Homo sapiens: one gene and its partners. The protein of the gene in region 2 interacts with the protein of the main gene of each other region in a pairwise test. Each region holds a gene or a part of one and is shown on either strand. Other genes may lie near its edges.

The links.
Region 1: the proteins of RAB5A (region 2) and TBC1D15 interact in a two-hybrid assay, tested with the Homo sapiens proteins (one study listed by BioGRID).
Region 3: the proteins of RAB5A (region 2) and RIN3 interact in a two-hybrid assay, tested with the Homo sapiens proteins (one study listed by BioGRID).
Region 4: the proteins of RAB5A (region 2) and SGSM3 interact in a two-hybrid assay, tested with the Homo sapiens proteins (one study listed by BioGRID).
Region 5: the proteins of RAB5A (region 2) and TRIM14 interact in a two-hybrid assay, tested with the Homo sapiens proteins (one large-scale study listed by BioGRID).
Region 6: the proteins of RAB5A (region 2) and SYNC interact in binary tests that used the Homo sapiens proteins (3 or more experiments, as listed by UniProt).
Region 7: the proteins of RAB5A (region 2) and ITSN1 interact in a protein complementation assay, tested with the Homo sapiens proteins (one study listed by BioGRID).

What each region holds. Positions count from the first base shown.
Region 1 is NC_000012.12:71,912,759-71,916,258, forward strand, and holds part of TBC1D15 (TBC1 domain family member 15), read left to right. Parts: intron 1-321; exon of another isoform or gene 322-374; intron 375-1,067; coding exon 1,068-1,168; intron 1,169-3,500. UniProt on the Homo sapiens protein: Acts as a GTPase activating protein for RAB7A. Does not act on RAB4, RAB5 or RAB6.
Region 2 is NC_000003.12:19,974,597-19,978,096, reverse strand, and holds part of RAB5A (ras-related protein Rab-5A), read right to left. Parts: intron 2,497-3,500; coding exon 2,345-2,496; intron 2,051-2,344; coding exon 1,928-2,050; intron 1-1,927. UniProt on the Homo sapiens protein: The small GTPases Rab are key regulators of intracellular membrane trafficking, from the formation of transport vesicles to their fusion with membranes.
Region 3 is NC_000014.9:92,649,781-92,653,280, reverse strand, and holds part of RIN3 (ras and Rab interactor 3), read right to left. Parts: intron 1,700-3,500; coding exon 206-1,699; intron 1-205. UniProt on the Homo sapiens protein: Ras effector protein that functions as a guanine nucleotide exchange (GEF) for RAB5B and RAB31, by exchanging bound GDP for free GTP. Required for normal RAB31 function.
Region 4 is NC_000022.11:40,398,094-40,401,593, reverse strand, and holds part of SGSM3 (small G protein signaling modulator 3), read right to left. Parts: intron 899-3,500; 5' UTR 788-898; coding exon 781-787; intron 2-780; coding exon 1-1. UniProt on the Homo sapiens protein: May play a cooperative role in NF2-mediated growth suppression of cells.
Region 5 is NC_000009.12:98,095,223-98,098,722, reverse strand, and holds part of TRIM14 (tripartite motif-containing protein 14), read left to right. Parts: intron 1-3,500.
Region 6 is NC_000001.11:32,692,771-32,696,270, forward strand, and holds part of SYNC (syncoilin), read right to left. Parts: intron 3,275-3,500; coding exon 2,095-3,274; intron 1-2,094.
Region 7 is NC_000021.9:33,775,001-33,778,500, forward strand, and holds part of ITSN1 (intersectin-1), read left to right. Parts: coding exon 1-108; intron 109-3,500. UniProt on the Homo sapiens protein: Adapter protein that provides a link between the endocytic membrane traffic and the actin assembly machinery. Acts as a guanine nucleotide exchange factor (GEF) for CDC42, and thereby stimulates actin nucleation mediated by WASL and the ARP2/3 complex.

The DNA of each region.
Region 1 (3,500 bases), on a different chromosome or scaffold from region 2:
TATTTTCCAGACTTCCCAAGCTACCAATAAAGAAATTTCTACATGATTTTAATAAATACACAAAAGTTACCGAAGTTGAATGATAACGTTTAAGTAAAAAGGCTTAGTATAAGTTCGTGTCCCTTCATTGGTTCAAGAACCTCTTAAGTCTGAAAATTTTTCAAGTCTTGAAAATTGTAAAACAAGGATAATTGAGGGTTTTATAAGAGGAAGTAAAAAAGAAGTTTGACATGTTCAGGTGAAAAAGTAAAACTAACACTTTTTCTTATTTTTAAGTGAGGGATCTGACTCCTTAATTTTCTAGTTTTTCTTTTAATCAAGGGCTCTATTACTGTCACCATTGAGAAATTGTAATAATATCAAGAGACATGTAGGTAAGTGGTCACTTTAGGTACAAAATATTGATTGGGTTAAGCCCAGTTGCTGGCATTGGTTGGGTGTAGAGAGTAACAAAAAAAGAAAGAAGGACGTAGATATGACTATTTAAAAGAGGCTCTTAATTTTGTAACTCCTGTTATGTGAATCTAAAGGTCTGATTGTTAAAGCAGTTGAACCCAAAGTTCTTGTTTTATGTGGCTTACTCATGGTAGTTTGGCATTGCTAACCACTCTGGGCTTGCAACTTTCTTGTTAATTTTTGCAACATTATTCTCGCTTGATTTTTTTCTTTACTTCTCTGACTGGTCTTTCTTAAACCTGTCTTTGAGTGTATACTCTTACATTTGATGTTCCTCTGGATTATCTCTTCACCCCTCTTCTTTCTCATGATGCTCTTGCACATTATTTTTAAAAATATTACCCACTCTTGATAGTGTATCTGCACTGAGACACGTACTGGAAGCTATATATTGTTTGACATCTCAATCTAAAACAACTCATCTTTCTTACTTATGACTAGAGTTCCTCCTCTTCATTTATATTCTTTTCTTGGTGAACATCAGTGTCTACCAATTTCTAAATGCAAAGGAGAAAGATACAATTTTAAGCGAAATGGTGGTGATATGCACAACTTGCAGAAGGTTACATAAAACTTGGGTTTTCAGAGATGATTTTTTCTTTTCTTTTTAGGATATGTTCAAGGAATGAGTGATTTACTTTCCCCTCTTTTATATGTGATGGAAAATGAAGTGGATGCCTTTTGGTGCTTTGCCTCTTACATGGACCAAATGGTAAGAACAGAGATTCCTTCCATTAAACTGATTTTTAAAATTTTAGTTGTATAATTTTATAGTATAAGGTTGATTTTTATATTTAGCCAACTATGATGGAACTTAAAAAAATTACCTCATGCCTTTTGTTACTTTTTCTTTTTAGTAGCCTTTCAAGGGCTTAGAAATACTGGTGGTATTTTTAATACAGGAAATAGTTTGTGCCTGTAGTATAGGAATAATCAGGATTTAATATCAGTAAATGCTTATTTTCTACTAAAGAGCCATGTGTCATTACAGAATATTGATAAAATAGATGAATTCAATTTTGTGGAATAGTTGAACTTTAATATCATCTGTTTCAGAGATAAAGCTTAGTCATGCCAAGTAATATCCTTACCTTTTGTGAAGATTTTGAATTTTGTCATTATAGTAACTGATTTTTCTCCAGATGTGTTTGAACTATTTGTAACTCTGACACTTTCTTAGGAATTCATTGTTATTTTCCCAGAAGTATGTGATTATTAGAATTGAACTGTCTATATATACATGTTAGTACAAAGAACATTTTATCTATTATCATTGTTAAATCTTTGAGACAGAGTTCTAGGATAATAGTGCAGAGAATATTGACAGGAAAATAAAAGAAAAGTCTCTTCAAGCAATCTCAGAAAAATAAAAGCAGAAGGGGTGAGACTAGATAAAGGCAGATGAAGTCCAAAGACCTGACTACATAGAGGTTGCTGTGTTTTTTCAAAATAACACTAACATACTGGATGCTGGGCCTTTATGTTGGATATTGAAATGGCTGGCTTGCTTGCAAGGGATAAACATTTTGAATCTAACCATCTGAAATATTTTCCTGTAATACAGGGTTTAACTCAGAGTTTCTGGGATACAAATGTGAAATTTGGAAGTGGTACCCTTCTCCTTTTTTCTTTACTTCTATTCTTTCCCTTTTGCTTGCCTATTTTTCTTTCTCCTTCAAATTTTCCCTGCTTGTGGCTATTTCCCCAAATCTCTTGTCCATAGATTCAACTTGTTTTTGCTTCTTTCAGTTTTTTTCTAAATGTATACTTGGTAAGATTTGATAGATTTAAAATGTTCTTTTACATTAAATTCATGAATATTCAAATTGGTTTTTTGCCATAAATTAATTTTTTTTGACTATTTGGAAGGATTATCAATGCAGTAATTTGGTAATGTCATAGTTTGTCTTCCTTCCTTTTTTGATTGATTTGTCTACCTTCTTAGTTCCATTTACTCCCAAGTGCTCTAGAAACCTGAGGCATTTGTTATAAAGGTCTGTACAGCTGATACTAATTACATAAAAACTGTTGTCTGCCTTCCTTGTGTTTTTGTTGTTTATCCTCTTTTCACCAGAGCTAGTATGTTCCTTGATAAAAGGGATTATATCTTGTTTCACTGGTAGCATACCAGAATTTTCCTAATGCCTGACATGAGGTTGTTCAACGGGTTTTTGTAGAATAAACATGTGAATCTTTCCCCAGTGATTAGTTTAAATTGCTATAGTAGATATTCTAAAAAAAAAAAAAAAAACACAACTAAGATGAACATACTGCATTTAGTATCATGCAATAAGTTTTCAATAAAACTAATCCAATATTGGCATGTAAATATATATTGACATATAATGCCACATACACACATGCATACAGACGTGTGTATATAGGTCTCATATGTAAAGACTACCTTCTGAACATGTGTAATAAACACTTTACAGTCCGTCATTTTTTGTGTATGAAGGTTCAGTTTCTTTGTTCTGTCATTTTCACAGTAAATGCTCTCTGTGTTTGCCTTTTCCATTAAGGATGTTCTGGGGATTTTTCTAGTCTTTATTCTAAAAAAGATATCTTATGATTATGTTGTCTGCTAACATCTTTTCTTTCATAATATTTGAATGAGAGGGAAATATATGGCAATCAAAATAACCTGTATGATTGTTTTTCACTGCATTGCCCTTGTTTGATGTCCCTAAATCTGTGCTGCTGTTTCTTGATTCTGTGTTTCTGTTTTATAGCTTTACTTCATGTAAGTTTGTACTACCTTTGTGGTGGCTGAACCTAACGTCTGTAAATTTACTTTTGTTGATGTTTACTTGCATCTAATGTAGGTCTAGGCATAGACTTTGTCTATTATCATGGAAATACAAAGTACAAGTGATCTGATGAACTTTGTTATACCCATCATCCATTTTGCCATATAGTTTTAATTCCTTTCTCCTCTCCATCTCCCCCTCCCCTGCCCCATACAGACACATTTATTTACAGACACATTTGAAGCCCTTTGTATATCCATTGTTGATCCCACTCTCCCTTCTCCAGGAGTAACC
Region 2 (3,500 bases):
ATTCTTGCATTATCCCACCTTGATTAATCTTTTCTTACATTAAATCTGCTTTCAAATACTGAGTTCCAGAGATGGGGGAGAATTATCTTATTCTAAATAAAACTCTCTTTGATCTCAACGGCAATTTTTATTTGCACTTACTGTCTGCAATGAAGACAAAGGGAAACCAAATATCTAACACTGGCTTCAAACACTAAATGACAACCTCATATTTAATTTTCAATGACTTCTACAGCAATATTATAATCTTGAATATATCATAAATCATTCCTTTGAAAATTACATCACTGCCCTACATTTTTGTCATGCTTTTACAGTTTACATATATTATTACTTTTGATCCTCATAGCTGTTGTGAGGGGTAACCAATGATCTTTCCCATTGGACAAAGAAACAACTGAGGTTCCTCTGAACTGTTATGTGACAGGGCCACTTCTGACTGTAATTTAAGTGTTTTCTCTGCCACTCTTGTGCTGGGAAGGCAACAATTTTGGAAAGAGTAATGGATACTACATCTCACATCGTTGTCCTAAGAATTAAATAAAATTACAAATGTAACATGCCCAACTTAATACCTAATGATGCAAGAATACATGGATTCCATCTACGTCATCAAAAAAGAAAACTATTTCATCACTGATATATACAGAACAGCCACAACCGCCCTTCTAGTAGAGAAGCCAAAGAGCAAGAGAACAGGCACAGTTTTAAAAGGTCTAAGTATGCCGGGCGTGGTGGCTCACGCCTGTAATCCTAGCACTTTTGGAGGCGGAGGCGGGTGGATCACAAGGTCAGGAGATCGAGACCACCCTGGCTAACACAGTGAAACCCTGTCTCTACTGAAAACACACAAAAAATTAGCCAGGAGTGGTGGTGGGCGCCTGTAGTCCCAGCTACTTGGGAGGCTGAGGCAGCAGAATGGCGTAAGCCCAGGAGGTGGAGCTTGCAGTGAGCTTGAGATTGCGCCACTGCACTCCAGCCTGGGCAACTGAGCAAGACTCCATCTTAAAAAAAAAAAAAAAAGTCTAAATAGAGGACTTGCTTTGTTTTTAAGTGATTGCACTTGCCTATTTTGCAGCAGCAAACATTCTGAATTAGCAATCGTAATACAAAACTGGATTTTCTCAGCCTTAAAAAAATTTTTTTTAATTATTAGTTTTTAGCTTATTATTTTCCAACTCTGGATACAGATTGGCAGAACCTTTATGTTTGAATGCCCCTTTAAGAACAACCACATAAGTGTTTGCGTATGTACATATGTGGGGTACACACATGTGCTGATACATATTTGCACATGAGTAGAAGAGGGTTAGGACATAAAGTATGTGTGGGATGGAGGAATTAGGGCAGGATACAATCACTTTCTGCACTGTGAACAATGACTACTTTTACTGTTTTTCTTTTTTATTTTGAGACGGAGTTTTGCTCTTGTTGCCCAGGCTGGAGTGCAATAGTGTGATCTTGGCTCACCACAACCTCCGCCTCCTGGGTTCAAGAGATTCTCCTGCCTCAGCCTCCCAAGTAGCTGGGATTACAGGCATGCACTACCATCTCCAGCTAATTTTGTATTTTTAGTAGAGACAGGGTTTCTCCAAGTTGGTTAGGTTGGTCTTGAACTCCCAACCTCAGGTGATCCACCCACCTCGGCCTCCCAAAGTGCTGGGATTACAGGCGTGAGCCACTGAACCCGGCCTTTATTGTTTAAGTCTACAAAATCTTTGGGTCAGTTTATATATTACAATAATCTATTTAAAAATTTAGGTTTATCAGAAACATTTTATTATATGTAGTACTTTATATTTGTTTTAAAAATCAGTATTTTCTATTACTTGCATGGTTTTGACATTATAACTAATTCAAGTGTTGACATGAAAGAAAAACATACAGGAAAAAAGTGCCTTTCAAATGAGAGTTAAATTTAACATACCTGGAAATCTACTGCTCTTTTATTTGCTAGGTCGGCCTTGTTTCCCGATAAAGCTATTACAATGTTAGGACTTGCTTGCCTCTGAAGTTCTTTAACCCAATTTTTTGCTCTTGCAAAGGACTCCTGTTAAACAAAGAAACAGCCATTGAGCACAGGCTCAAAAAATGGTTACCAAGCATCTTTGTGATACAAGGCTTTAAAAGACTGTCCCAAGTGACTGTGGGAAAGAAATTATTAGGACTATTGTATTATGAGACATTTTCGTTTTTTTTTAAAACCAGATTTTCTAATTCACAAAAGCTTCAGCAGAAAGGTCATGACTATCAGAAAAAGATTTTCCAAAACATTTAATCAAAATTCTGAACACCAAAAGTGGGTACTCAAATTAGTTTTACTGTGGAATGCATCCATACTTACCTCATTTGTGATATCATATACAACTATGGCTGCTTGTGCTCCTCTGTAGTACATTGGTGCTAGGCTATGGTATCGTTCTTGACCAGCTGTATCCCATATTTCAAACTTTACTGTAGTGTCATCAAGACATACAGTTTGGGTTAGAAAAGCAGCTGAAAGAAAAGGACTACAATAAGTCAATCATTTTTCTCCAAATGTTTTCATAATATAGAAAACACCTGCTTGTATACATCTATCAAAATGTCACACTGTACCCCGTAAGTATGTACAACTATTATGTGTCAGTTAAAAGTAATAAATGAGGGGGGAAAAAAAAAGAAAACACCTAGAAACTTGACAGATTGCATACCCACAGCTGATAATAGCTTTAAATACTGGCAAACCTGTGCTTCTAAGCTATTTACATATATGCTTACATATAGGGCCTTTGTAGTGAAATCACAGATTGAAAAACTTCTGCATCTTAAAAAAGCTTGTTATAATACTAAATAAACTTAAGACTACATTTCTTTTCCTTCTTCTTTTTTTTTTTTTTTTTGATACAAGAGTCTCAGACTAGAGTGCAGGGGCGTGATCTCAGCTCACTGCAACCTCCGCCTCCCGGGTTCAAGCAATTCTCCTGCCTCAGCCTCCTGAGTAGCTGGGACTACAGGCATGCACCACCACACGTGGCTAATTTTTGTAGTTTTAGTAGAGATGGGGTTTCACCATGTTGGCCAGGCTGGTCTCGAACTCCTGATCTCAGGTGATCCGCCCACCTTGGCCTCCCAAAGTGCTGGGATGACAGGCGTAAGCCACCAAGCCCAGCGAAGACTGCATTTCAAAATTGCTCTACAATTAAAGAAATGCACTGATAGTCTTAAAAAATGAAGTTGGGGGAAACCCAGTGTGCCTAAAAGTACCATCTATACTGCTGACACCATGTCCTGTTCCATTTTACTAGTTTTTATTGGCGCACACTGGCAATTTAGTCCCAGTCAGTTACCACCAAATTAGTATTTCTTGTTATATTATCTTTTTTTTTCTTTTTCTGAGACACAGTCTTGCTCTATCTCCCAGGCTGGAGTGCCTCCCAAAAGTGCTGAGATTATAGGCGTGAGCCACCGTACCAGGCCTCTTGCTATATTATTTTTTAAAACATTGTGACACTTTAATT
Region 3 (3,500 bases), on a different chromosome or scaffold from region 2:
GGTCAATTCTCTAGGGAAGGGGGGGAGCCGGGCACCATTAGCAGCCTACCTTGCAGCAGCCAGAGAAAGTTCCTGGTGCCCAGGAAGGGATAGGGGGTGGGCACCAACAGCGTCCACTGCATAGGCCTCTTTTGTCCTAAGGGGTTCCTGAGTCTGTGAGCCCCACCGCCCTCTCCTCCCTGCCACCTCCTCCCAGGGCACTGACCGAGCTCCTCCTCGGAGTGCAGGGCGGGGTCCACCAGGGCCTTGAGCTCGGTGCTCTGCAGCAGGTAGCTCTTGAGCTGGGTCATCATGGTGCGAATCTCCTGCAGCATCTCCGTGCTGGAGGTCTGGCGCGCCATCATCTCCAGGCTGTACACCTTGTAGTCCTGCACCAGGCTGCCAAAGTACGAGCCCTTGTCCTGCGCCAGCTCCACCACCTTCTTGTACAGCTTGCGGTTGTTGGAGAGGAAAGCGTGGAACATGCTGCTGAAACTGGCAAAGCTCAGCCGGTGCCGAGCCTTGCCCAGGATCATGGAGGGCTTCTTCTTCACGCTGGGGCTGCTGAACTGCTCCAGCTCCTCCTCCGTGCTGCTGGTGGAGTAGGAGTCCTGGTCGGTGGCCATGACAGACACCCCCAAGCTGTCTGAGAGGGAGGCCAGGGAGCCCTTGAACTCTGGAGAGCTCTGGGAATGGGCAGTGGCCTGGGCAGGAGGGTGCTGAGTCCCAGCCTGAGAAGCAGGGCTTTGGCCCTCTCTGGGTGGACCCGGCGTGGGTGTCTCCAAGGCCATCGCCTGTGTGCAGAGCTCAGCGTTCTCTAAGGGAGCTGGGAGGGTCGAGGCCAGTTGTCGAGAGATCCGTTTTTTCCTGGGGGGCGGGACTGGGGGTTGTTTGGCTGTCCTGGGCAGCTCTGGCATGCTGTGAGGATCGCTGGCTTTCACCTCTGTGTCCTGGCCTTGCTCCGTGCTCTCCCGGGGCGTGTCCTCAGGGCCGTCTGAGGTCCCTTGGGGAGGCAGGCTGAGCTGGTCCCCCTCTGCCGCCATCCCCGGACTTTGGTCTTCTAAGGACACCCTCTCGGAAACGCGGCGTCTGGGAGGGGCAGTGGGAAGGTTCTTCTTCGCAGGCAGTGGCGGGGCGGGGACCTGCTGCAAGGGACTGGAGGCTGCCCCTGGCTTCATCGCTTCCTCCCTGAGGGGGCCCAGGCCTGCAGTGGGGCATGGGAGTCTCTCGCAGGTCATCATGGGCGGCTGGTTCGGATGGTCTGGGGGACCTGGGGCATGGGGTGTGACGTGGGGGGCAGGCACTGGGGGAGAGGTGGGCAAAGGACAGGCAGGGGCGGGGGCAAGAGCAGGGAGCACAGGGGGCTGGGCTGGGCTGCAGGGCTGCAGGGGCAGCACTGGGGGAGGGGGTGGTGGGCGGCGTGGGGCCCACCTGGAGGTGGGTGAGGTGGCATCAGAGGTGGGCGGCAAAGGGCGTGCAGGGCAATTTCCAAGAGGTGGCTGGTCGGTGGGCAGGGCGCTGCTGCAGTCCTCGATGAAAATAGGATTCACAAACCACAGGCGGTCATTTCCTACCGACAGCTCGATTTCACAGGCACAGTTTGCGTCATGGGCTGTGGGCCTGAGGCTGGAGACTAGGGGGAATCCGGGGGCCCGGTCTCTTGGGGGCTCTGCTGGCTTCCCTCTTTCTTGTGGAGGATTCAGCGAGGAGTCCCAGAAACCTGTGGAAGCAAGAGAGGGGCAGGGGGTCAGTCTGTGCCAGGGACTAGGTGTTGCTGTGCTGGGCGGGGTCTGTGGGCGGGGTCCACGGGTGGGAGGGCTGTTCAAGGCATTTGCTTCACTACTCCGAGGTTGAGGTTGTTTTCCCCTCTTGGACGCTTTCAAACCTCTCCCACCACTTCCTGCCTCGAGAGGGGAAGCCCCACTCAGTCCTCCCCAGCAGTGTAGGGTGAGGCCGGGGGTGATGTGATAAGCTCAGCTTCAGTTCTCTTCCTTGGTGTGAGAGCCCACATTGGAGGGCATTGATGACACAGGGTGGGGGGTGACAACACTGTGCTCTGGAGCCGTGGGGAAGGCATGGTGAGAGCACAGGGGACGGAAGGCCTGGAATTCCTGCGGCCAACCAGCTGGGTGCTCTGGGGCAGGTGGTTTGACCTTCCTAGGCCTCAGTCTAGTCATCCCTAAAATGGGGTCACAACAGTACACACATCACAGGCACACGAGGAGGAAGGAACATTGGGCCTGTTTTGGCCTCCATGGTTATTATATGTGGGAAGGACGAACCTATGGATTGTGGCCAGCGAGATCAGACCCGGCTGTCCAAGCGGGGAGCAGCCACCCACCACAAAGTGATTCTGACTCCAGTCAACCTCGAGCTTAAAATAAGAAGCTGGTCGTCTGCCCCAGTCAGGGGAAGCCAAGGCTCCTGCACCGTGGAGCTGAGTTCCAGTGCGTGCCTCTCTACCGACCCAGTCCCCAGGGGCTCAGTCATGGCTGTGGCCACCAAAGCAGGCTAGGGACAGGCAATCTTGATCTGTGGGGACCACACTCTGCCAAGCATCTGACGGAGGCTCAGGACCCTCCAAAGAGCACACAGGGATGCTACATCTTGGGAACAATTGCAGTCAGTGCATAGGCCACCCTGCGTTCACTCAAGCTTCCTCCTGGAGAGAAACAAGGGTCCCAGGTCTTGTTCAGCCTGCTAGGTTTGGAGCTGGACAGAGGATGACCCAGGCAGATGCAGAGTTCCTTGTGAATTGGTGCAGCCAGCCTTTCACCCAGGGCTCTTCACTCCTGGGAGGAATTCACCCTTAAGAAAACTATGGAAAATAACATCAAGGATAATCAGAGGAGCAAACATCCATGGCGTTCTTGCTGCGCGTGAGCCCACGGGCTCCTTGCTTTACCTGGGTTATCTTGCCGACCCCTGATCATAGGCCTTGCCCCCAGTTCACAGATGAGGGTAAGAGGCTCAGAAACATGAAAGCACTCGCCCTGTGTCACCGGATTGGGGAGTGAGACGCTGGGATTTGACCAGGTCGGGCTGGTTCTACAGCCTGTGTGTTTAGCCTCCGTGTTAGGCGGCCTTCCTTCATAGGAACTTGCGACACTTCCCATATTTTGGTTGCTCTCCCGGCATCGGTGAGTAGCAGGGTGGCTTGCAGCCCAGAACTCAGGATGTGGCAACAACACAACAGGCTCTTGATGTTGAAAGGAGACCTCACAAGATGGCCTGGAGCAGCCAAGCGTGTGCTCGCTCTAAGAGGTGGGCACTATCAGGGATGTAGGCATTTGCCATCTTGCTGGCTGGGGTCACCAACGCAATCAGGGTAAGCAGGTGCCTTTCCAGGACAAAGGGACTGAAGAAACAGACCGGAAGTGAACTGCGACCCACCAGCTGTGTGCACCCCTCTGAGGTGCACCCCCCAGCCCTGTCCTGGGCAGATACCCTGTGTCTGGCTGCCTGAATATCACAGCCAGTGGAGAGAGACCAGGTCTCATCACACTAACAAGCATGACAAC
Region 4 (3,500 bases), on a different chromosome or scaffold from region 2:
CCTAAAACCAAAGAGGACCAGGAGAACAATCAAGAAAATGCAGAGGCAGGCCAGGCGCAGTGGCTCACGCCTGTAATCTCAGTACTTTGGGAGGCCGAGGTGGGCAGATCACCTGAGGTCAGGAGTTTGAGACCAGCCTGGCCAACATGGAGAAACCCATCTCTACTAAAAATACAAAATTAGCTGGGCGTGGTGGCACATGCCTGTAATCCCAGCTACTCGGGAGGCAGGAGAATAGCTTGAACCCAAGAAGCGGAGGTTGCAGTGAGCAAGGATCGTGCCATTGCGCTCCAGCCTGGGCAACAAGAGCGAAACTCTGCCTCAAAAAAATAAAAAAAAAATAGAAAATGCAGAGGCAAAATTCAAATCAGGAAATACCCTCTCCCTCTAAGAGCACCAGCATTAAAGGGACTGGCCCATCTCAAGCGTGCTGGGTAGGGAAGGAGCAGAGTGAAAGAAACCTCCTAGAAATCAGCAAATTTCTGGAGAAGAGGGGAAAGAAACAGCAGCACATTACAAAACATGACCAAACTTCATCTTCCGGCCTCTTTCTCCACCTGAGGACTGCAGATCTGCGGGTTGGAGAGCTGGAGGAGGAGAGCTAGAGAGCAGAGCTGAGAAGGAAGTTTTAATAACTTTCTCAGCCAGCCAGAAGCCTTCCCTACCATCTCCACCTCTCTTATCTGGATGGTGTTTTATGGAAAACAAGCCACCTTCCATCCCTCTGGCTCCTCTGTGAGAGCTTCAAACCCCGTTTCCAAGTCCAGCCCCTGCCTCTACCTGACATTGTGCTGGTGGGCTGGCAAGTCTTCTGCAGCTCCAATCTTAGAAGTCTCCTATCCTGCTATCTTAGAGCTGGAAGGCTCCTCAGGCTTCATCTGGTCCAGAATCATCTGCCCTGTTAGAAGAGAAAAGAGGAAAGTCATTCTATTTTTATTTTTATTTTTTTTTAGACAGAGTCTCGCTTGGTCACCTCAGGCTGGAGTGCAGTGGTGCAATCTCAGCTCACTGCAACCTCTGCCTCCTGGGTTCAAGAGATTCTTCTGCCTCGGCCTCCCGAGTAGCTGGGACTACAGGGTTGCACCACCACACCCGGCTGATTTTTGTCTTTTTAGTAGAGACGGGGTTTCACCATATTGGCCAGGCTGGTCTCGAACTCCTGACCTCGTGATCCCGCCGGCCTCGGCCTCCCAAAGTGCTGGGATTACAAGCATGAGCCACCGCGCCCGGCCAAGCCTTTACTTCCTTTTACTTCTAACCACAGAATTAAAGGCTCTCACTCTACGAAAGGAAGTAGGTGACAACGAGGAGATGTGGTTGAAAGATTTCAAGACAAGTTACATTCCGGTTTTTGAAATCATATTTACCTAAACCTGGCACTGAAGAAAAATTTACTTTTGCCATTTTTCACACAATGAGAATTCAGAAATGACAGTTGTTATCCTGGTCCATAACAGAACCTATTCTCCATGCTATCTGCCATGGAATTCTGGTGTTGGGAATTCTAGATAAATCGGGAAGAATTAGGTAAGTGAGAAGCAAAAAAGAGGAAAATCAAACCACCACTTCAAAGGAGCTGTGAGAAAATCCCAGTTCTCTTTAAAGACATACAAGTGTGGGGGCAAAAATAGCTCCTGTGGGCAGCTCAGCTGTGTCCCGGCCTCTGCTCCTGCCCCAGACACACACTGGCCAAGCCAAGTTTAGGATAAAGGCCACAGCAGAACATTCCTGACTGTTACAGAGGCTTTGGTACCCAAATGGGAGAGACGCTCCCTCCTGCTTCCAGACATGCCTGCTGAGAACCAGATGGCAGAACCTGCTTCCCCAACAGGCCAGCCATCCTGGTTGGTTGGTTCTGTGTGAAGAGAATGGAATTTTAATGTCTTCCTTCAGTGTAAAATATATGTGATATAGGGTTTCCCTCAGAACTATGAGCTGGATGATTACATATTTTTACATTAAAGAGACTGAGCTAGAAATTTTAAAAAGCATGTCATGTCATCATTCAATCCTTACAACACATTCATTCCTTACACAACAGAAAATAAGCCTAGGAGAGACTGATAGTTTCCAAATGGACTCCCAAAACTTTGCCCTGCCACACCATGTAACCCCACCCTGTGAAATGACGGACACATGGCCACCAGCTAGATGGCCCTGGGAATGGAACCCAGTGCTCTATTACGCCTCCTGCTGGCTTGGAGCCTGAGATGGCAAATGGCTGTGGCAGAACAACCACGTGTCAGCTTTGGGAGGGAGTGGGCTCAGCGCTCATCCTCTGCACCATGATTAAAAGTAAAGACATCTTGGCTGGGCGCGGTGGCTCACGCCTGTAATCCCAGCACTTTGGGAGGCTGAGGTGGGCGGATCACTTGAGGCCAGGAGTTTGAGACCAGCTTGGCCACCATGGTGAAACCCTGTCTCTACTAAAAATACAAAAAAATTAGCCAGGCATGGTGATGCATCCCTGTAATCGCAGCTACTTGAGAGGCTGAGGCACAAGAATTGCTTGAACCCGGGAGGCAGAGGTTGCAGTGAGCCAAGATCGCACCACTGCCCTCCAGCCTGGGTGACAGAGTGAGACTCTGTCTCAAAAAAAAAAAGTAAAGACATCTCCAGTCCAATCCTAGCTCTGCTACTCGTGTAGCAGAGTGGGCCTGTGCCCACTTGTTATAACCGTGGGCAAGTTTACTTCACGTCTGTATCAGTTTTCTTTTCGATAGAATGGAATAATAATACCTATGCCTTACTGTGGTTATGAGGATTACGTGAGCTGATGCAAATAAGGCCTTTAGCACACTGCCTGACACATATAAGTACTCAATAAGTATCAGGCAATTAGTAGTCCTAAAAATTTTTAGAAAGTTATTGTTAATATATGGACCCTCCTCATTGAGGTATACTAAAAACTATGTTGAACCATATTAAATTGCCGATATTCATCCATTACAGCCTAGAAAAATGACAACTGTGTATGGTTCCACATAACATGTCCCAGTTGAGAGCATGAGAAAGACTCCTCATCACCATCGGCCCCAGAGGCAGGGGTTTGGTTGGTGGTTCTGAAAGGGCAGAGTAAAAGTGTGACAGAGCACCTGCAGGCTGCTTGTAGCAGAGAAATCAGCTACATCTGGCTGTGGAGGCCTGAAGGGGCTGGGAAGGCCCACTCAGGAGTCCCTCCCCTTTCCTGATCTTGGCTGTCCTCCCACTCATTCATTCATCAGCAAATGGGGACTGAGCACCCCTAAGAGCCAGGCAGCTTCTAAGAGCTGGGACACAACAGTGGGGGAAAAAGTCCTGACCCTTACATTAGAGAATCAGATGACAGGCTGGGCCCGGTGGCTCACGCCTGTAATCCCAGCACTTTGGGAGGCCGAGGTGGGTGGATCACCTGAGGTCGGGAGATTGAGACCATCCTGGCCAACATGGTGAAACCCTGTCCTACTAAAAATACAAAAATTAGCTGGGCGTGGTGGCGTGTGCCTGTAGTCCCAGCTACT
Region 5 (3,500 bases), on a different chromosome or scaffold from region 2:
TACTTTTTTCTTTTTTTTTGAGACGGAGTCTTGCTCTGTCGCCCAGGCTGGAGTGCAGTGGTGTGATCTCGGCTTACAGCAAGCTCCACCTCCCACCATTCTCCTGCCTCAGCCTCCCGAGTAGCTGGGACTACAGGCGCCCCCCACCACGCCCAGCTAATTTTTTGTATTTTTTAGTAGAGATGGGGTTTCACCATGTTAGCCAGGATGGTCTCCATCTCCTGACCTCGTGATCCGCCCCCCTCGGCCCCTCAAAGTGCTGGGATTACAGGCGTGAGCCACCGCACCCGGCCGATGGTGTTCCTGTCTTTAGGGAACCGTGGAAGAAACTGTTGTCTGGTGTCAATATCCCTGTGCAGTCACTTCTGCACTAGAATTGCTTTTCCACTAATAGAGCTCCTCCTGTTTCCTTCTTTGCCTTGGGAAGTTCAGAGCCAAATCTGCTTTGACTAACCAGACTAAGGCTTCATGGCAAACACTTTGTGTCTAATTTTCTCTTAGCTTCATTTTTCTCGCTATAAAGAAAAATCTTGCCTTATTAGAGGACCTTCACAAGACACTTTAAAGGCTGTGGGACAAGGCAGGGTACAACTAAAAGTGGCACCAACTCTAACCACAGATTAGTATGGGCTCTGGCTGGAAAATAAGACAGACAAATAAGCCAGTCAACACAAAACCCGCCAAGCCAGTCTCCAGCTGGGGATTTCCACTCTTGTGTCTTTATGTGGCCTCAGTCGGTTCAGCCTGTGTCTCATTGTCAGCTGTTTGAGCCAAATTCTGGATGAAGTGTTTTCCTAGGCATAATGGGTGTTGTGCTTTAAGAGAGGCAAGATGCACAAAGTGTTACATGTAATTGTCTCTTTTTAAATAATGGTCGTTTTTAAGGCTATGGAATACAAAGGAATCCTTCCATGGAGAAGCATGCTATTCTCACATCAGAAAACGGTTTCAGGGCTTTGTCATCTTTTTTTTTCAAATTCTCTTGGGCCACAGCTAATGATTTTAATCATTCACCGTTCCCACCTTCTATGTGTTCATTCGTTTATTCATCAATATGTACTGAGCCAGGTCACTTGCTGGACATTAGGAGCTCACAGTTGGGTGGGGGACTTGCTCAGAAACAGTTATTTACAATACAGCTTAAACAATTTTGTAAATATGAAGCTAGCAAAATTATGTCCAAGAAATGTCTGACACTCTCTGGCTGGGAGAAGGATGCAGTCTGGGAAGACTTCTAGGAAGAGGTGATGGTAGGGTTGGGTGCTGGACAATGAGTAGGAGCACACTGTATATAGAGAGGACGCAGAGAGGACAGACAGGAACTGTGTACATGTGAGAGCTTGACAGGCTGGGGAACCAGCTGGGGTGCAGCCTGACTTGAGGAGAGGTGAGGGTATAAGGGTGGGGGGATTGAGAGACACAGCTGGATCCATAGGCCATAGTTAGTTCATGAAGGCCTTATGTGCCATGGAGTTCAGACTTTGTCCTGTAATGAGATAGGAGACAGGAATGTTTGTTTGTTTGTTTTTGAGACAGGGTCTCACTCTATTGCCCAGGCTAGAATGCAGTGGCTCAATCTCAGCTTACTGCAACCTTTGCCTCCCAGGTTCAAGGGATTCTCCTGCCTCAGCCCCTGGAAGAGCTGAGACGACAAGCACGTGCCACCATGCCCAGCTAATTTTTGTATTTTTAGTAGAGACAGTGTTTCACCATGTTGGCCAGGCTGGTCTCAAACTCTTGACCTCAAGTGATCTGCCCACCTTGGCCTCCCAAAGAGCTGGGAGGTGTGAGCCACTGCACCCAGCCCAGGGGAGTGTTTTGAACTGAGGGATGAAAGCATTCACATGGTCAGATTAGTGCTTTAGAAAAGTCACTTTAGAGATAGAGTGGAAGATGGACAGAGGAGGCCAGGATGGGAGGCTGGAAGAGAACTTGGGAGGAGGCCACAATGTCCAGGAGAGAGATGATGGTGGCCTGGACCAAGACAGGGGCAGTGGGGATGGGGAGAAACAGGCAGGTCAAGAGATGCCACAGGAATGGAGATTGGAATTGGAGAATGGGTAGGAGGAATCCCCAGATGATGCCTGGGTTTCTGGCCTGAGAGATGAAGGGCTGGGATTTCTGTTCTCTGAGTCTGCAAAGGCAAAAAAGTGGCTGTGCTCGGTTTCATGCATTGATTTATTCCATCATACATATGTTTTGAGAACCTGTGTGTCAGGTCTGGTGCTAGCTGCTGGAGTTTGGGGTTACCAGGTGGTGCCATGTGTCCTCTATCGACCCCTCATCCTACCCTACTCATCTGCCCTCTGAGCCCCCTCTCGCCTCCCCGGAGCTGCTCCCTGCCCACCCTGGACTTCCTGCTAGTGCTTGGTCTCCCCTGGCCAGCTCCATTCCAGCGCTCTGGGTGTGACCTTAGGCCTGGTTCCCCACCAAAATGAGGTTGGACTCTATAGACTCCTGGCCTCCTAGGCTGAATGGGGCTTGCAGGCCATCTCACAGCCCCCTCCCAATGTACAGCATGCTGCCAGGTGGGATCTGCCCCTGCCCAACAGCCAAGTGCTAGGCCACCCTCCCTCCCTCCTGAGGCCCTCATCTGTCCACCCCTTCTCGGGTGGGCAGCACTGCCACTGCCAGCCAAGCCTGATCACCTGAGGCAGTCATCTTCCTTCCAACTCCTGGCCAGGACAGAGCTTCAGAAAATGCAGCCATGGTTCTTACCTGCAAACATGAGAATCCACTGGAACTGTTTTAAGCAAGAAAGGAGTTTATGGAAGAGTATGAGATAGCCCATAGGATCTCCAGGAGGGCCAGAGAGTCGGGATGGAAGATGGGCAGCAGGAATGAAGTCCAGACTCCAGCAGGGGTTGGTGCCAGTATAGGCCCCACGGCACCCCTGCTGGGCAAGACATCACCACTCACACCACTGACCAGAGCCCCCACCACTGCTGTCCCTCAGTGCCACATGCCACCATCACTACCTTCACCGTCATTTCCAAATCCACGCTTTGGCTTGGAGGCGTCTGGTCACACTCCTGCAGCACAGGTGCAAAGGGAGCTGGGAGAGGGGGTTTTCTAGCTTCTCCTTAGTGAAGCCACATACCACAGGAAAGTATTGAAGAGGGGCTGTCCAGGTGCAAAACAGGACACATGTCCCCTGCGGTGGCCACACCCCCTCAGTCAGCACTGCAGCTGAACCTTGCTGGCCTTTGGCGTCCTTCTTAGAACATGGTTTCCTGCTCCACCTTTGAATAAGCTCCAGGTGCTCCTTCCCCAGGGAGACTGACCTCTCACCCTTTTTGTACCCAAGGCAGACCCGTGGCGCAGTGTGTGTGAGGCTGAAGCCTCTCTGGGAAGGGCCCCGTGTCAGCCTGACCCTGCCTTCTGCATGCATAGCTGGCACAGAGTAGGTTTCAATGAACACGTAAGGAAGGAAGGAAAGGAGGAAGGATGGAGAGGGAGGAATCCCCAGTGCCAGCACTGAAAAACCGCACCTCCGCATG
Region 6 (3,500 bases), on a different chromosome or scaffold from region 2:
GAGGCGGGTGGACTGCCTAAGCTCAGGAGTTTGAGACCACCCTGGGCAACATGGTGAAACCCCATCTCTACTAAAATACAAAAAATTAGCTGGGTGCAGTGGCGGGCACCTGTAGTCCCAGCAACTCAGGAGGCTGAAATGAGAATTGCTTGAACCCGGGAGGTGGAGTTTGCAGTGAGCCGAGATTGGTTCAGTGCACTCCAGCCTGGGTGAAAGAGCAAGACTCTGTCTCAAAAATAAATAAATAAAGATAAAAATAAAAAACATTCAGTATTATGACCCCAAAAACCACAGTGTTTTTTTTTTGTTTGTTTGTTTTTGTTTGTTTTTGAGATGGAGTCTCACTCTGTCACCCAGGCTAGAGTGCAGTGGTGCAATCTCAGCTCACTGCAACCTCCGCCTCCCGGGTTCAAGCGATTCTCCTGCCTCAGCCTCCCAAGTAGCTGGGACTACAGGCATGTGCCACCATGCCCCCCTAATTTTTGTCTTTTTAGTAGAGACGGGGTTTCACCATATTGGCTATACTTGTCTCAAACTACTGACCTTGTGATCCACCCACCTCAGCCTCCCAACCAAAGTGCTGGGATTACAGGCGTGAGCCACCGCTCCCAGACAGAGTGTTTTCATAATACAAACTACAGAAAGCTTGACAAAATCTTCAGTGAAGTGAATGCAGCCATTTCAACAGGGAAACTTGTTCCCTTAAGGGCATATCACAATCTCTGGGAAGACATAGATTTCTAAGTTTATCCAAAGGAATCAGTGTTTCAAAAGATTAAAGTACTGCTTAGAGCACCACACTACAGTCTTCTCATTAGTGCCCAGCAGCACATGTGCTCTGAGCCTTGAGTAGCAGAGAGTAATACAACAATAAGTAAAATGTATTCCCTACCTTCTGAAAGTTCACAGTCTAGGAGGGACTACGTAATTGTTTATTCACTTAGTATTTATATCCCACTCTGTTCTAAAAAGGGATTAGAACTGGCTCACACTTAATCAGAAATAACTTGAATGCAAGAGAGATGGGGACAAATGCACATAAAAGGAAAGTGAAGATGAGAGGATTCTATTAAGGTTGGTGCAAAATTAATTGCAGCTTTTGCCATTAAAAGTACTTGAGCCCAGGATTTCAAGACCAGCCTGGGCAACATGGCAAAACCCTGTCTACAAAAAATACAAAAATTGGCCGGCTGCGGTGGCTCACACCTATAATCCTAGCTCTTTGGGAGGCCAAGGCAGGCGGATAGCTTGAGCTCAGGAGTTCAAATCCAGCCTGGGCCACGTGGTGAAACCCTGTCTCTACAAAAAATTAGCCAGGTATGGTGGCACACACTTGTAGTCCCAGCTGCTTGGGGGCTAAGGCAGGAGGATCGCTTGAGCCCAAGAGGTTTGAGGTGCAGTGAGCCCTCAAGATTGCACCTGTCTCAAAAAAGAAAAAATTAGCTGGGCATGTTGGTGCACAGTTGTGGTCCCAGCTACTCAAGAGGCTGAGGTGGGAGGATCGCTTGAACCTGAGAGGTCGAGGCTGCAGTTAGCTGTGATCATGCCACTGCACCAGCCTAAGTGACAGCAAGACCCTGTCGCAAAAAAAACAGAGTGCAGGCCGGGCGCGGTGGCTCACACCTGTAATCCCAGCACTTTGGGAGGCCAAGGCAGGCGGATCACGAGGTCAGGAGATCCAGACCATCCTGGTTAACAACAGTGAAACCCCGACTCTACTAAAAATACAAAAAAATAGCCGGGCATGGTGGTGAGCACCTGTAGTCCCAGCTACTCAGAAGGCTGAGGCAGGAGAATGGCATGAACCCAGGAGGCAGAGCTTGTAGTGAGCTGAGATCGCACCACTGCACTCTAGCCTGGGCGACAGAGCGAGACTCCATCTCAAAAAAAAAAAAACAAAAAACAGTGCAGATAACTTCTAGTCCCTAGCATGGGCCTGAATGAATGAAGAATGGAGAAAAAATTGCGTGGCCCCAAAGAACAAATTTTTCTTCCTACATGTGACACTATCTTTCAGCCCCAAAGACCTTGGACTCTGGCCACTCTTTCCCCAGGTTAAAAGACCTCAGTTCTTTTCATGCCCAATGGGCCTACCCTGTACTGCTGCACCTCTTCATCTCGTTTTTGCCTCACAAGTGCGATCTGGTCCTCCAGGTTCCTGTTTTGCAGGCGGAGCTGCCGGGCCTCTGCTTGCAGGGGTCTCAGAGCCTCCTTCATTTCCTGGATCTCAGCCTGGGTTCTCTGCAGAGCTTTGGTCCCAGCTTCTTTCCTCTCTAGGAGCCGCAGGAACTGAGGCTCATACTCCTCCTCCAGGTCCTGGCGGCTCTCTGCCATGAGATTTTCAAACTGGGCAGAGAGTCGCCGGCTTTCCTGGAGAAAGTGCCCATCCCTCTGGCTTGGAGGGGCTTCTAGTTGTTGCCGCAGCTGCTCCTTCTGCTTCTGATAGGCATCCCGGAGCTGGGCCAGTTCCTCTGAGAGCTGGGTTGCCCTTGTAGTCAGCACTTCCCGGAAATCGGCAAACTGAGCCACGTCCTGCTGGCGGCACTCCAGCTGGTATTGGTAGGCCACACATTCCTTTGTCACTTTGAAAAGCTTCTGCTTGACCAGCCGGATCTCCTCCCTTAGGCCATCTCTCTCCAGCTCTGCTTGGGCATGGAGCTTGTAGGCAGCCAGGATGTCTTGATGGACTTGCTGTACCTCCTGCAGGGCTGGTTCCCGGAGCAATACAAGCTCATGGATGAGCTGATCCCTCTCCTCTTCCAGCTGGGCCACAGCTTGGACACACTGCTGGAAACGCCCCTCTAGCAATTCCAGGTCCTCTATGCTCAGGTTCTCCTCCATGCTGGGGCTCTGCTCGGCTCTGAGGCTCTCCTCAGGGTTAGATTTCTCCGCCCTTGTGACTGTCTCTCCCTCATAAACAACGTGCTCTGGGCTTGTGGGCTTTCCTGGCTCCACGGGCCCCTCCACAAACTGTATCCGATCTGGCTCCGTGGTTTCCTCCACACACACTGTCTCCTCTGGATTCCCAGGCTCCTCCACATGCAGAGCCTCATCTGGCTGCATGGCCTCCTCAATATACAGGGCCTCCTCTGCCTTCTCAGTCTCTTGCACATAGAGTGTCTCATCAAGGTCACCTGTGTCCTCCAGGTAGAGAATGTCTTCGAGGTTTAAGGACCCCTCTGAAGATAGAGTAACTTCTGGGTTCAAGGCTTCTGCCTCATTTAGGGATCCAGAGTTCTTTGGAAGAGGAGAATTGGCCTCTACTCTTGTTTTCCTGCAAAAGAAATGATTGAAAGTGAAAGGGCAGCCACAATCCCAGGATGGTGCAATTCTGGAGCCAGCAGCCATGGGCCTAGACTACCTCAGGTTCTTAGATGTCAGCAGCCATTCGTCTGCTCCCTCCACTCTGTCAATCCACCCCTCCACACACCCAACCACGGTGTAGATCCCCTGCCAGCATCCCAGCGACATCACCATATGGTCTCTGCTTATGCAGCTCC
Region 7 (3,500 bases), on a different chromosome or scaffold from region 2:
CAAGATATCAGATGTCGATTGACCACCCAAAGGCAAGAAATTGAGAGCACAAACAAATCTAGAGAGTTGAGAATTGCCGAAATCACCCATCTACAGCAACAATTACAGGTGAGGAAATATGCCTCTTAAAAGCTATTATATTAAACTGGCATCCTTTTCTCTAATTCATTTCATTTACTTACTTATTCAGTAAACATTAAGCAACTGTCTTGTACTAGGCACTGGGAAGCAAAAATGAAGTAGACAGGGTCCTTGTGTGAAAAGTAGCCTGTCAAGGAGACAAACTCAGCAAATATTTACTGAGCACTGCTTCGGGCCAGGTGCTTTTGCAGTTTCTGAGGCTACAGCAGGGACAGACACTCTGTCTTCTGGGAGCTTACCCTCTGTTTGCAGGAGGAACAGAGACTAACAAAATAAAGTGTGTACTGTATTAGAAGATGAAAAGTGCTATGGAGAGTGAGTAGGGAAGGGAATAGAGAGTCCTAGGGATAGGAAATGTTGTGATTTTAACTAAGGTAGCCAAGACAGGTCTTTCTGGATGGTGACATTTGAGCAGAGACTTGAAATTAATGACAGGCTAAGCCATGTGGGTATCTGGCAGAGCAAGATCTAGGCAGGGAAATAGTGCCAAAGTCCTGAGGTCGTAGCAGGACTCTGAGATGCCAGTTACAGCAAGGAGACTACTGGGTAGAGCAGGTGGGAGCTGGATCACACAGAACCTGTAGTCCACCAACAGGACTTTGGCTTTACTGTGGTAATTACAATAAATAAGTACACTTAAGTATTTTAGGGGGTCATATGAGAGCTATATGTATACTAAATAGTTGGAGACATACAGAGCACTTTTAGTAGTTCTGTCTTCATTTTAAAGCCTATCCAAAGTTGTTATAATATCACCTGGTTTGGTATCAAGTGCTGAACTACAGGGGCATCAAATTCATGTAAATATTGCCTGTGGATGATCATATTTGCCTGTGATTCCTTTATGTTAGGCTTTTTCTCAGCATGATGTTTTTGAGATGTGTCCATGTTACTGAGTGAATGACTCTTTTGTTTCTTTTCATCACTGAGTAGTGTTTCCTTATGTGTCCATTCACCTACTGGTTGATATTCAGGTTCTTTCCAGTGTGGAACTTTTATGAATAAAACTGCAGTGAGCATTTATGTACAAGTCTTTATGTGGAAATGGTTTATTTCTCTTGGGTAAACTTTTAGGAATGGAACTACTGTGTCATGTAAGTGTATATTTAACCCCATAAGAAACTGTCAGGCTGGGCACAGTGGGTCACACCTGTAAACCCAATACTTTGAGAGGGCAAGGTAAGAGGATTGCTTGAGCTCAGGAGTTTGAGACCAGCCTGGGAAACATAGCAAGACCCCATCTCTAAAAAAAAAAAAAAAAAACTTAAAAATTAGCTGGCATGGGGGCGTTCACCTGTAGTACCTGCCTGAGGCAGGAAGACCACTTGAGCCCACGATATCGAGGCTGCAGTGAGCTATGATTGAGCCACTGACTGCCTGGGCCACAGAATGAGACCCTGTTCAAAAAAAAAAAAAAAAAGAGAGAGAAAAGAGAAAGGAAAGAAAGAGAACTGACAAACTGCAAAGAGTTTGTACCATTTTACATTCTGATCATTTAATTTGTATTTCCCTGAAGGCTAATGATGTTGGGAATCATCTTACATGTTTATTGGCGAGTATTTTTTACTGTGCATCTTCGTTGAAGTGTCTGAACAAATCTTTTGCCCATTTTTTATTGGGCTGTTTGTCTTACTATTTACTTGTAAAAGTTCTTTTTATATTCTTAACAAGTCCTTTGTCAGATACGTGTTTTGCAAATATTTTCTCCCAATCTGGCTTGGGTTTAATTTTTGTTAGTGGTATTTTTTAAAGGGCAGAAGTTTTAAATTTTGATGAAGTTCAGTTTACCGTTTTTTTTCTTTTGGTGTTCATGCTTTTTATGTTCTATCTGAGAAATCTTTGACTACCCCATGACTGCAAATATTTTATTTTCTTCTAGAAGTTTTTGGGGCTTAAAAAAATAATTTTTACAAGTTTTTATAAATTGAAAAAAACTTAAAATTTTAAGTTTCATAGTTGTATCTTATATGTTTAGGTCTATGAGCTATTTCAAGTTGATTTTTGCAGATAGTATAAGGTAAAGGTTGAGGTTTATATTTTTACATACTGATACACAGTTGTTATAGCACCATTTATTAAAAACACTGGCTTTTTTCCCATTGAGTTACCTTGGTAGCTTGTTGAAAATCAGTTGAACATATTTGTAATGGTCTATTCTGGACTCTATTCTGTTCTTTTGATCTGTCTGTCCTTTACCAGTACCTCACCCTGTTGATACCTAATTTTTGAAGTCAAGTGATACGAATTCTCTGTTATTGTTCTTTTTAGAATTGTTTTTGGTTATTCCAGGTCCTTAACATTTCCATGTACATTTTAGAATCAGCTTATCAGTTTTTACAAAAATGCTTGGAATTTTGTTGGAATTCCATTGAATTTATAAATCAATTTGGGAAGATTTGACATCTCAGCAATAGTAAATCTATGGCATAAATCTCTATTTTGGTAGTTATAAATTTCTCTCAGCAATGTTTTGTAGTTTGCAGTGTCCAAGTCTTGTAGATACTTTGTAAAGTTTATCCCTAAGTATTTTGTGGCTTTTGATGCTATTGTATATTGCATATTTTTATTTTAGTTTCCAGTTGTTTGGTGCCAGTATATGGAAATAGAATTTATTTTTGTATATTGACCTTATATCTGTGATTGCTTAACTAACTTCCTTTGTGTGTCTTACTTTGTTGACCAGAACCTCCCATACTATATTGGATAGAAGTGGGAAGAGCCTTGTTCCCTCTCGATGAAGGAAAGCTCTCTCACCATAGAGTATAGTGTTAACCAGGGTTCTTGTAAACACCTTTTATCAGGTTGATGGACTTCTCCTTTTGCTGAGGGTTTTTATGATGAATGGGTGTTGAAATAGATCATATGTTTTTTCCCCGCATCTATTGAGATAAGTATGTGTTTTTTCTTTCTTATTTTGTTAATATGATGAAGTACATGGTTGCCATTTGAATGTTAAATCAGCCTTCCATTCTTGGGATAAACCACTCTTGGTCATGGTATATTACCCTTTATTAAAATATTTCACTACATTCCATTTCCCATTATTTTATTAAGGATCTTTTTAAATCTGTTGAATTCAATTCAACAGAGATATTGGTTTTTAGTGTTCTTCTAATATTCTTGTCTAGTTTTGATATCAGGGTAATGCTGGCCTCAGAAAATGAGTTGGAAAATATTCCTTCCTCCTCTATTTTCTAAAAGTGTTTGTGTTGAAATAGCATTTCTTCTTTAAATTTTGGTGGCATTCACCAGTGAAGGCCTCTGGGCCTGGAGCTTTCTTGAAGACTTAATTATAAAATTCATTATGCAGATATAGGGCTATTCTGATTTTCTTCTTCTCCTTGAATCTGTTTTGATTA